Linked DNA regions of Homo sapiens. The protein of the gene in region 3 purifies or fractionates together with the protein of the main gene of each other region. This does not show direct contact. Each region holds a gene or a part of one and is shown on either strand. Other genes may lie near its edges.

What was found.
Region 1: the proteins of CECR2 (region 3) and ALPL purify together in Homo sapiens (affinity purification with mass spectrometry, with the first as the bait; one large-scale study listed by BioGRID). This does not show direct contact.
Region 2: the proteins of CECR2 (region 3) and MLKL purify together in Homo sapiens (affinity purification with mass spectrometry, with the first as the bait; one large-scale study listed by BioGRID). This does not show direct contact.

Annotation. Positions count from the first base shown.
Region 1 is NC_000001.11:21,554,363-21,558,009, reverse strand, and holds part of ALPL (alkaline phosphatase, tissue-nonspecific isozyme isoform 1 preproprotein), read right to left. Parts: intron 1-3,647. UniProt on the Homo sapiens protein: Alkaline phosphatase that metabolizes various phosphate compounds and plays a key role in skeletal mineralization and adaptive thermogenesis.
Region 2 is NC_000016.10:74,694,216-74,697,862, forward strand, and holds part of MLKL (mixed lineage kinase domain-like protein), read right to left. Parts: intron 1,545-3,647; 5' UTR 1,543-1,544; coding exon 1,083-1,542; intron 1-1,082. UniProt on the Homo sapiens protein: Pseudokinase that plays a key role in TNF-induced necroptosis, a programmed cell death process. Does not have protein kinase activity.
Region 3 is NC_000022.11:17,367,858-17,371,604, forward strand, and holds the start of CECR2 (chromatin remodeling regulator CECR2), read left to right. Parts: upstream 1-1,602; 5' UTR 1,603-1,926; coding exon 1,927-2,052; intron 2,053-3,747. UniProt on the Homo sapiens protein: Regulatory subunit of the ATP-dependent CERF-1 and CERF-5 ISWI chromatin remodeling complexes, which form ordered nucleosome arrays on chromatin and facilitate access to DNA during DNA-templated processes such as DNA replication, transcription, and repair.

The DNA.
Region 1 (3,647 bases), on a different chromosome or scaffold from region 3:
AGGGCACTGATCGGTACATACTATATGATTCCATTTATATGAGGCTCAAAACAGGCAAAGCAAGTCTCTGGTGGCCAATGTAAGCCTGGGCATCTCCTCTGGCTTTGGGAGGGGGTTGGCACAGGGAAGCCCACAGATGCCTCACAACCAGAAATGTTCTGTCTTGATCTGGGTGGCGGTTACATGGGTATAAATATATGTCAAAATTTTTTCAGGCTATGTATTTAAGATCGGTGCCCTTTTCTGTAAGTTATATCTAATTGAAGAAAAAAAAGAAGGCTGAAGAAGTGGCTCATCCTGTAATCCCAGCACTTTTGGAGGCCATGGTGGGAGGACTGCTTGAGGCCAGGAGTTTGAGGCTACAGTAAGCCATGATTGTGCCACTGCACTCCAGCCTGGCAACAGCAGATACAAAAAGTTGAACTGCTGAACGTTTGAAGATTTTTCATGTTGTCACTTTTTCACCTTTTCCCTTTTCATCCATTAGTTCATCTTTCACCCAGGTGGGCTGTAAGTGCTGAGAAGGCAGGGACCCCGTCCCAGAGTGACCTTGGTCCCCCAGGGATGCAAATGGCACCACGAGGTCTCAGACGCAGCAATGGCCTGAGAGCTCAGCAGCTCAGGCTCAGTGCCCCACTGCACCCCATCTCCTCATCTGCTGAAATACAGCCGTCCTAAGAGAAGAGACCAACATTCACTGAGCATCCACTCCTTGCCAGACACTGTGACTATCCCATGTGATTCCCATGATGACCCTAAGCGGGAGGAACTCATCCCCACTGGACAGATGGAGACACTGGAGTGTGGGGAAGGCAAGTGGGGACTTCTAGCCACATAATGGACTGAGCCGAGGAAGGCTCTCTTCTCCAGCTCCAGATACAGAAATGCTGGGGAAAAAAAAATAGCACATAGCTTGAAAAAGGAAGAAAAGGGGGAAGGAAAATCCTCAGGAGGCAGCATTGATGAGGGAATCTAAAACCAGAGGGGCCCACAGGAGCTGATGCAGAGAGGAACGCCTGCGACGGCAAGCCAGGTACAGGTTCAGGCTGAAGCTGGTTTCTTTTCTTTTTTGAGATGGAGTCTTGCTCTGTTGCCCAGGCTGAAGTACAGTGGCGCAATCTCAGCTCACTGCAACCTCCGCCTCCTGGGTTCAAGTGATTCTCCTGCCTCAGCCTCCCAAGTAGCTGGCATTACAGGAGTGCGCCACCATGCCCAGCTAATTTTTGTATTTTTAGTAGAGAGGAGTTTTTGCCATGTTGGATAGGCTGGTCTCAAACTCCTGACCTCAAGTGATCCACCTACCTCGGCCTCCCAAAGTGCTGGGATTACAGGCGTGAGCCACCATTCCCGGCCAGAAGCTGGTTTCTTTTTATGAGACAGAGTCTTACTCTGTCACCCAGACTGGAGTGGTTTGATTATAGCTCACCGTAATCTTGAAATCCTGGGCTCAAGTGATTCTCCCACCTTAGCCTCCCAAGTAGCTAGGACTACAAGCATGCAGCACTATGCCCAGCTAATTGTTTGTTTGTTTCTAGAGATGGAGGTCTCACTATGTTGCCCAGGCTGTCCTCAAACTCCTGGACTCAAGCGATCCTCCCACCTCAGCCTCCCAACGCACTGGGATTACAGGCGTGAGCCACCATACCAGGCCTGCTAAAGCCACCACACCAGGTCTGCTGAAGCTGTTTTAAGGTACACATTTTGCCTTGGAGCTATGGAAGGGATAGAGAAAGACAGTCATTCATAAGAAATGTGAATTCAAGTCAAATCTGAGCCAGGTCTAAGTGGGGATCTGAATTTATAGTATAAGAATTGTAAACCAAGAAATCAACATAAAAACTGGCCTAGAATTAGTTGAACCCCTAGTGTCCTGAAAACACCATGCCATGCTGTGGAAACACTTCCGCGTGAATCTCCAACAGAAAAACAAAAAACTCGGCCGGGTGCGGTGGCTCATGCCTGTAATCCCAGCACTTTAGGAGGCCAAGGCAGGCGGATCACCTGAGGTCAGGAGATCGAGACCATCCTGGCTAACATGGTGAAACCCCGTCTCTACTAAAAGTACAAAAAAATTAGCTGCGCGTGGTGGCGGGCACCTGTAGTCCCAGCTACTTGGGAGGCTGAGGCAGGAGAATGGCGTGAACCCGGGAGATGGAGCTTGCAGTGAGCCAAGATTGCGCCACTGCACTCCAGCCTGGGCGACAGAGAGAGACACTGTCTCAAAAAAAAGAAAAACAAAAAACTCCTGTTGAAGATGAGTTCACTAGTGAGAACTACAAATGACAAGAAAAAGGCTGGGCACAGTGGCTCACACCTGTAATCCCAGCACTTTGGGAGGCCAAGGCGGGTGGATCACTTGAGGTCAGGAGTTCGAGATCAGCCTGGCCAACATGATGAAACCCCGTCTCTAATAAGAATACAAAAAATTAGCCGGGTGTTGCGGCGCACGCCTGTAATCCCAGCTACTCAGGAGGCTGAGGCAGGAGGATCACTTGAACCTGGGTGGCGAAGGTTGCAGTGAGCTGAGATCACGTCACTGCACTCCATCCTGGGCAAACAGAGTGAGAGTCTGTCTCTGTCTCAAAAAGAAAGTGTCAGGCGTCTGAGCCCAAGCTAAGCCATCATATCCCCTGTGACCTGCACATATACATCCAGACGGCCTGAAGTAACTGAAGAATCACAAAAGAAGTGAAATTTAAATGGTCTGTTCCTACCTTAACTGATGACATTCCACCACAAAAGAAGTGAAAATGGCCGGTCCTTGCCTTAACTGACGACATTACCTTGTGAAATTCCTTCTCCTGGCTCATCCTGGCTCAAAAAGCTCCCCCACTGAGCACCTTGTGACCCCCACTCCTGCCCGCCAGAGAACCCCCCTTTGACTGTAATTTTTCCTTTACCTACCCCTATCTTATAAAACGGCCCCACCCATATCTCCCTTGGCTGACTCTCTTTTTGGACTTAGCCCGCCTGCACCCAGGTGAAATAAACAGCCTTGTTGCTCACTCAAAGCCTGTTTGGTGGTCTCTTCACTCGGATGCGAGAGAAAAGAAAGGAAAGAAAGGAAAGAAAAAGAAAAGAAAGAAAGAAAGAAAGAAAAGAGAAAGAAAGAAAGAAAGAAAAAGAAAGAAAGAGAGAAAGAAAGAAAGAAAGAAAGAAAGAAAGAAAGAAAGAAAGAAAGAAAGAAAGAAAGACAGACAGACAGACAGACAGACAGACAGGCCAGGCGCGGTGGCTCACGCCTGTAATCCCAGCACTTTGGGAGGCCGAGGCAGGCGGATCATGAGGTCAGGAGATCGAGACCATCCTGGCTAACACGGTGAAACCCCATCTCTACTAAAAATACAAAAAATTAGCCTGGCGCGGTGGCGGGCACCTGTAGTCCCAGCTACTTGGGAGGCTGAGGCAGGAGAATGGCGTGAACCCAGGAGGCAGAGCTTGCAGTGAGCCAAGATGGCGCCACTGCACTCTAGCTTGGGCAACAGAGCGAAACCCTGTCTCAAAAAAAAAAAAATTAAGAAAGAATATATATAATATATATGAAATATATATATGGAAAAATATATATATGAAATATATATATGGAAAAATATATATGTGGAAAATATATATTTCCTTGTATATATATATTTTCCTTGTATATATAT
Region 2 (3,647 bases), on a different chromosome or scaffold from region 3:
TGTGTGATTGTATCTCAGATTTTGATAAAGGTTGCACAAATATCCTACCAACAATGGATGAGATTATCATTTTGTCTATATGGTTTCCATCAGACTTCCCCAGTTTTAGTACTGAAGGTCTCATGTCCTCAGAAAGGGAAACAGGGGCCCCTGAGGTCAAGGAGGGAGATTTACTTCTCACGCCGGCCCCCTCCATCCTTTGTTTTTGGAGACAGGATCTCGCTCTGTCGCCCAGGCTGCAGTGCAATGGAGAAATCGTGGCTCACTGCAGCCTCGACCTCCTAGGTGCCTGTAATCCCAGCACTTTGGGAGGCTGAGGCAAGAGGATCACTTGAGGCCAGGAGTTCTACACCAGCCTGGGCAACATAGTGAGACTCTCTAACTACAAAAAATAAAATAAAAATTAGCTGGGCATTGTGGCGTGCACACCTATAGTACCAGCCACTCGGGAGCCTGAGGTGGGAGGATCACTTGAACCTGAGGCTGCAGTGAGCTATGATTGTGCCGCCGTCCTCTAGCCCGTGCAACAGAGACCCTGTCTCAAAAAATGAAACAAAACAAAACAAAACTCCTCTTCAACGCTGGCTTGCCCAAATTTCACCAGCCCCCACCATATATCTGGGCCAAAGGATGTTAGGAGTTTTGTTTGTTTGTTTGTTTGTTTGTTTGTTTTCTGAGGCAGAGTCTCGCTCTGTCGCCCAGGCTGGAGTGCAGTGGCGCGATCTCAGCTCACTGCAAGCTCTGCCTCCCGGGTTCACGCTGTTCTCCTGCCTCAGCCTCCCGAGTAGCTGGGACTACAGGCGCCCGCCACCATGCCCGGCTAATTTTTTGTATTTTTAGTAGAGACGGGGTTTCACCGTGTTAGCCAGGATGGTCTCAGTCTCCTGACCTAGTGATCAGCCCGCCTCGGCCTCCCAAAGTGCTGGGATTACAGGCGAGAGCCATCGCGCCCAGCTAGGAGTTTTGAGGTACAAGTATATTACAACTGCTCAAACTTCATCATTGCTGCTCCTTTGGTAAATTAAAGTGAGACTAAAATGCATTCAACTGCACTCCCACTCCCCACCAAAGACCCAGCTTGCCTCTTCTTAGCATCTGGAAAGCTCGCCTGTCTTCGTCTGCATCCTGCTGATCTTCCTGTGCCCAGGACGCTCCTTGGCTTATGGGTGAAACAGGCATGCGTTGCTCAACCTGAAGTAACAGCGAGAGCTCCTTCCAGACATCACTCAGCTTCCTGTTCACGTCCTTGAAGAGTATTTTGTCCTGGCTTGCTGTTAGAAACCTGCAGATATTGGATCTATTGCTGAACTTTTCTATCTCCCCATTAGCCTCCTCCAGGGCAGCCTTGAAGCGGTTCATGGCTGTGGTTAACTTCTCAGAGGGCACGCTCCTCTTTCCTTGGTCCTGGAGCATCTCCAGAGGCTTGATCAGGCCGAGGACGCGGTGGCCCAGGCGCCGGCACTGTTTCTTGCAGTATTTCATCTCTTCACACCGTTTGTGGATGACCTGGCCAAGGGTGATAATATGCTTCAAATTTTCCATGCCTGGAAGAAATGAATGGAATTTGGTGAAATCCCCAAATCTCCTGCATATTCACTACTTGGCTAAGAAAGAATCAAAGCGGTCTGTGACTTAAATGCCTGAGGAGGTCTCCCCAGCATTTTCATGCAAGATAGAGATGGTTTGCTACCCACCAAAATCTGTTCTGCCCTTGCACAATAATAGAGTTGTAGCTGGGAAGAGCTGGTCCAGCCGGAACTACATCTCCCAGCCTTCCTTGCAACTTGATGTGGCCATGTGACTAGTTCTCACCAATGGGGTTTAAGTGCATGTGACCTGCTCTACTTCGGACTGGGGCAGCTGTGCCGCCTCCTCACACTCTCCCTTGGTTGGCTGGATGCGTGGGGTGAAGCGGCCCTGGGGTGGTGGAGCCCCAAGAAGAGTCCTGAGTCCCTGGATAATCACTTGGAGGAGAGCTGCCCACAGACCTGGAACGTCTGTCATGGACTGTTAAGTGATCAAGGAATAAACTTGTATTGCATGTAAACCGTTAATATTTTCAGGTTGATATGTTTATATCAGTTTCGTCTATTACAGATATATCCTGCTAAAGCATAGAGGTTTCAGGGGCCAGGCGGGTAATTCAAATGAGTGAAGTGAGCTGAGGTAGTCTTTACTGCCACAGATAAATATGTTTCTTTCTGTTTTTTTTTAAAACATGTGGACTATCTTTCATTTTTCCTACAAAAAATTGTTCAGTTTCTTCCTACAGTCCTTTAAGAAAAATGCAGCTGGGCGAGGTGGCTCCCACCGATAATCCCAGCACTTTGAGAGGAAGAGACAGGAGGATTGCTTGAGGCCAGGAGTTCCAGACCAGTCTGGACAGCAAAGTGAGACCCTTTCTCTACAAAAATAAAAAAAATAAAATAAAATAAAATGAAATAAATAAAATATAAAATTGGCTGGGCGCGGTGACTCACGCCAGTAATCCCAGCACTTTGGAAGGCTGAGGTGGGCGGATCACTTGAGGTCAGGAGTTGGAAACCAGCCTGGCCAACATGGTGAAACCCCGTCTCTACTAAAAATACAAAAATTAGCTAGGTGTGGTGGTGCATGCCTGTAATCCCAGCTACTCGGAGGGCTAAGCCAGGAGAATTGCTTGAACCCAGGGGGTGGAGGTTGCACCATCTCAAAAAAATGTAATACATTACATATATATAGTAATATATATAATATTACATATATATAGTAATATATATGTAATATTACATATATAGTAATACATATATATAATATTACATATATATAGTAATACATATATATAATATTACATATATATTATATATATAAGTTAGCCTGGTGTGGTGGCACACACCCGTAGTCTCAGCTACCTGGGAAGTTGAGATAGGAGGATTCCTTGAGTCCAGGAGGTTGAGGCTGCAGTGCCAGCTTCCTACTCTTAACCTCTCTCTCTTCTCTGAACATGAGTGAGGAAGCACAGAGCCCTGATCCTAAAGCTTGGAATGAGGCTAACCTGAGCATGGTAGAATGGAAAGGGAGAAAGAATCTGAGTCTTTGATGACAACATTGAGCCACTGGTTTGAACTGACATGAAGTGTACCCCATCCCCTAACTGCAGGTTTCATGAACCAATAACCTCCCTGATTGTTTAAGGCAGTTTGAATCATGTTTGCTTTATTTGCAACTGAAGCCGACTGCGTTCAGCAATGAATGATGATAATAATTATGACACTAGATCTCTCAATTCACCTACTACATCCTAAGTGCTTTGGAACCCCCAGCTCTCCATGGTTATTTTCATTTAACAGATGAAGATACCATCTGGGCACAGTAGTTCATACCCGTAATCCCAACATTTTGGGAGGTAGAGGTGGGAAGATTGCTTGAGGCCAGGAGTTCCATTCTGGGCAACACAGCGAGACCCATCTCTACTAAAAATACAAAAATTAGCTGGGACCTGTAGTCCCAGCTACTCAGGAGGCTGAGGCGGGAGAATCGCTTGAGCCTGGGAGGTTGAGGCTGCAGTGAGCTATGATGACACCACTGCACTCCAGCCAGGGAAACAGAGAGACCCTGTCTCGAAAAAACAAACAGGTGAAAAGTGAAGATGCTGCGGTTCAGGGAGG
Region 3 (3,747 bases):
CACACACAAACGTAGGCTTGGCTTTTTGGGAGCAGTCACATGTGAGCTCATTTTTGCCAAACATTAAATAAAAAGCATGGTAGAATTTGAGGATGCACTTTAAATCATCAAATAGTTCCAGGGAATGAAAGAGCAGAACTTTGGGTTGTTTTTCTGTGCCAGGAGAGAGTGGTGGGGGGCGGAGGAGACCCTTGTTAGAAGATGATGTATTTTGAGATTACTAGATTCACAGAAGATGCACGTGAATATACTCTAACCATTTAAAATTATGTTTCTGAATGCTGCCTTAAAAAATACAACAAGTTATTATCATAATAAAGTGAGGGAGAGTGGAGGGGTAATTATCCAGACAGCCCATTCCAAAATCTATCATATAAATTATCTCCAGATTGTACACTACTTAAAGGTAGAAGAGGATCTTTGAGTTTAACCCTTGTACACTTTGTGATTGTGCCTGTCACTCAATAAATAGTTGATTAATTTGGGGGACGCACCAGGAGCAGTGTTTCCTATCTGAAAGGTGGACCACCGAACTCAGAGGCGGCCCTCTGAGACCAGCAGGATGCAAGTGCGACGACCAATACAAATATCTGAGCATTCAATGGAGTTTTTCCAAACTTCTAGCCTGTTTCTGGGGTGATTTTTTTTCTTAGGATTTAGCAGTACTCCACCGCGCTACAGCAGTTAGCATTTCTAAAGCACACACTCCAACACCCTTCGGCCGTAGCACATTCAATCCCTCCGCCGGGGCGTGGGGGTCTCCTCCCCTCCGAGCACAGTCCCCGGCTTCCCGATCTCCTCTGCCCCATCCCCCCGCCTTCCAAGCACATTGTGCTCACTCTTCCAGGCAGCTCTTTCAGCGGCCGGGCAGTAGCAGGGTTCCGAGCCCGTCTTCTCCGGGGCGGTCACACGTGTCCATTCCCTGGGGTTGGGGATCGCTCTTCCCGCTTGGCTGCTGATTGGTGCCTCCCCCTACCCCACCCTTCCCGCCGCTCTCCAGCCTCCATCCTACTTCGTTCCAGCTCAATCAGCCCCACCGCCTTCTTCCCTCGGAGAAAAAAGCCACTTCAGAGCTCCTTGGGCGCCGTTCTCGGCTGGAATAAAAGCGTTAAGAAACAGGTGGAAAGCACTTCACTTCTCTAGGCTTCATATTTCTAGGGTGGACAGCCCGCTCCTGCTCCGGCTCTGCCCTCGGCATCAATAATAACTGAACTCCCACACGTGCACGTTTCTGTCTCTAGCCCGACCGAAAGGACCACCCCGCGGGCCCTTTAAAAGGACGCGACCACTCAGGCCAAGTGGGGGTGGGAGAGCTCCTGGCCGTCCTCCCTTGGGAAAGTGCTTCAACTCCCCAGTCCCAAAGTCCTGGAGGGCGGAGGGCGCCTCGTGAGAGTTCTCGGGGGTGCGGCCCGCGCCCCCTGGGTCCTGCGGATCTGGGCCCGGGGGCGCGCGCCCCGCCCCTCCCCCTCCCTGGCGGTGCAGCTGTCCGGGCGGGGGTGGGGCGGGGGCGGGGGTTGTTGTTGTGGCGCGGGCAGCCCCGCCCCCTCCTCGTGGGCGGCCCCTCCCCCAGGCCCCGCGTCCGGCCCCTCCGCCCCTAGCCCCATCTGTTTCTCCGGCGGGGACTCGATTATATTGTAGGGGACTGGGGGCGGCCGCCGCCGCAGCCGCGGGATGGGGCGAGCGCGCGGACCCCGCGGGCAGCCGCAGCCGCAGCCGCCTCAGTAGTTCGGGCCCCCGCGCCGCCGCCCCCCGCCCGGCGCCCGCCCTCGGCTCCTGCACTCGCCGAGCGGCGGCAGCAGCGGGAGGAGCGCCCCGCCGCCCCCGCCGAGGACCGCGCGGAGGCTGCGGCGCTGCCGCGGCGGGAGTCCCAGGTCGGCGGGCAGAGCGCGGGCAGCGAGGGGCCGCCGCCTGTGCCGCAGCGGGGAGATGTGCCCAGAGGAGGGCGGCGCGGCCGGGCTGGGCGAGCTCCGCTCCTGGTGGGAGGTCCCGGCCATCGCGCACTTCTGCTCGCTCTTTCGCACCGCGTTCCGCCTGCCCGACTTCGAGATCGAGGTGAGTGGCCGCGCGGGCGGGAGGCGGCGCGCTGCGCCCCCTGCTCCCCCTGCCCCGCGCGGGGTGTCCCGGGCCGTCGCGCAGAGGGGCCGGGGCCCGAGGGACTTCGGCCGGGAGTCGGGGGCCAGGAGGAGGGCGCAAAAGGGCAGGAGGGCGGGCGGGGGCCGCCGGGCTGTGCCCGGGTGCCGAGGGGCGTCGGGCCGGGGACGCCGGATCCTGGGGTGGAGGAGCAGGCACCGCGAGGGCGGGGCGGGCCCGTGCTTTTGTGGGAGAGGGAGCGGGAGCGGGACCCGGCGACCCTCCCGGGACTTCTCCGGTGGGCTGGGGCTGGGTGTGGGCGCGAGGGCTGCGCGCGCTCGCCGCCCGGTGCCATTGAGGCGCGAGCCAGCTGCTCCGGCGGGGCCGGGCGCGGGGGGGGGGCCCGCGCGGGATTAACTCGGACCGGGGCGGGAGTCGGCCGCGGCCGGCGGGGAGGGCTAGCCCCGCTCTGGCGGGCGGGCGCGTGGCAGGGGCTCCCGGAGGCCCCAAGCTCCCGGGAGGCGCTCCGGCCAACTTCGGGCCGGTGGGGACCGGGCCTGGGCGCGGGGCTCTGGAGGTGTGGAAGGAAAGTTTGGGACTCCGTTATTCTTCCACAGCGTCCTTCCTCCCGTAATATCCAGCCTCTTTATCGCGGGGCTCGGGAGCCCTTGGAGTTGATCTCGCCACCATTATCCCCCCGGGCGAGCGCGGAGGACGGGCTGGCCATTCTGGCCAGGCCGGAGGTGTTTTCCAGCCCGGGGCTTTGTGATAACTGGGCCGAAACCCGAGGGTCCTGGAGCGCGGCGGGTGGCGGGAGCTTGCGGAGCGCGGCGCACTCGGCGGCCAGGCATCGGCCAGCCCAGCGGCAGCCCCCTTTCTCCTATTTTTATTTTTATTTTTGGAAGGAGCTGAGAATTAGTCGATTGGTTGGCAGGTTGAATTGCCTTCTCTTCTATGGCAATATGTGTCGTGACTTTTCACCTTTTGCCTTTGGACAAAGGTGAATGGCAACTGCGTTGGTCAGTTTTTGTTTTCTGTTCTGCGGATGGGTTCGCCGACGCAGTAATCAAAATTAGAGCCACTCTTTTGGAAGAGCAAATCGTTGTTGTTGCCTCCCCAGCCCCACGGATCTTACTTTGTGCCATTTTCGGGTTGATTTTAACTCGTTTATTTCAGAGCTCTTTGCCTCACCTTTATTTTTAGATTTAGTCGTGTTTGCTGAAATATCAGTTGCTTCTTCTGTGAATGAAGTGTGGGAACTTGCTCTCGTCGCAGTTAATGAAATCAGGAAAATAAAAAGATCAAAAGGGTTGGGGATGGGAGAATGAAGAGGAATGTAGACAGATAGTCTAGGGCCACTCACTGGCTTTTGGCGATTCTTAGTTCCTTAAGCTGATTAAAACAATGTGAGGAAATGTGGGCTTCTCCACTTTTTAGGAAGAGGTAATAACGGGCATTTTACGTGGCGCCACAGCGTTTGTTTTCAAAGTTTGAACGTGAATGTAGCAAGCATAATTTTATTAATGAAAATATTCTTTAGACAACTGTTAATATTGACGAAAGAAGAGAAACAGAGACACGGAAGCTAAAGAGTTGGGAATCCTAAAGGTCAAAGGATGTTTCTCAGTTACTCTGATGTCCTGTGTTTTCTTTCAGTTGGTACAAAATCGTGAGTAG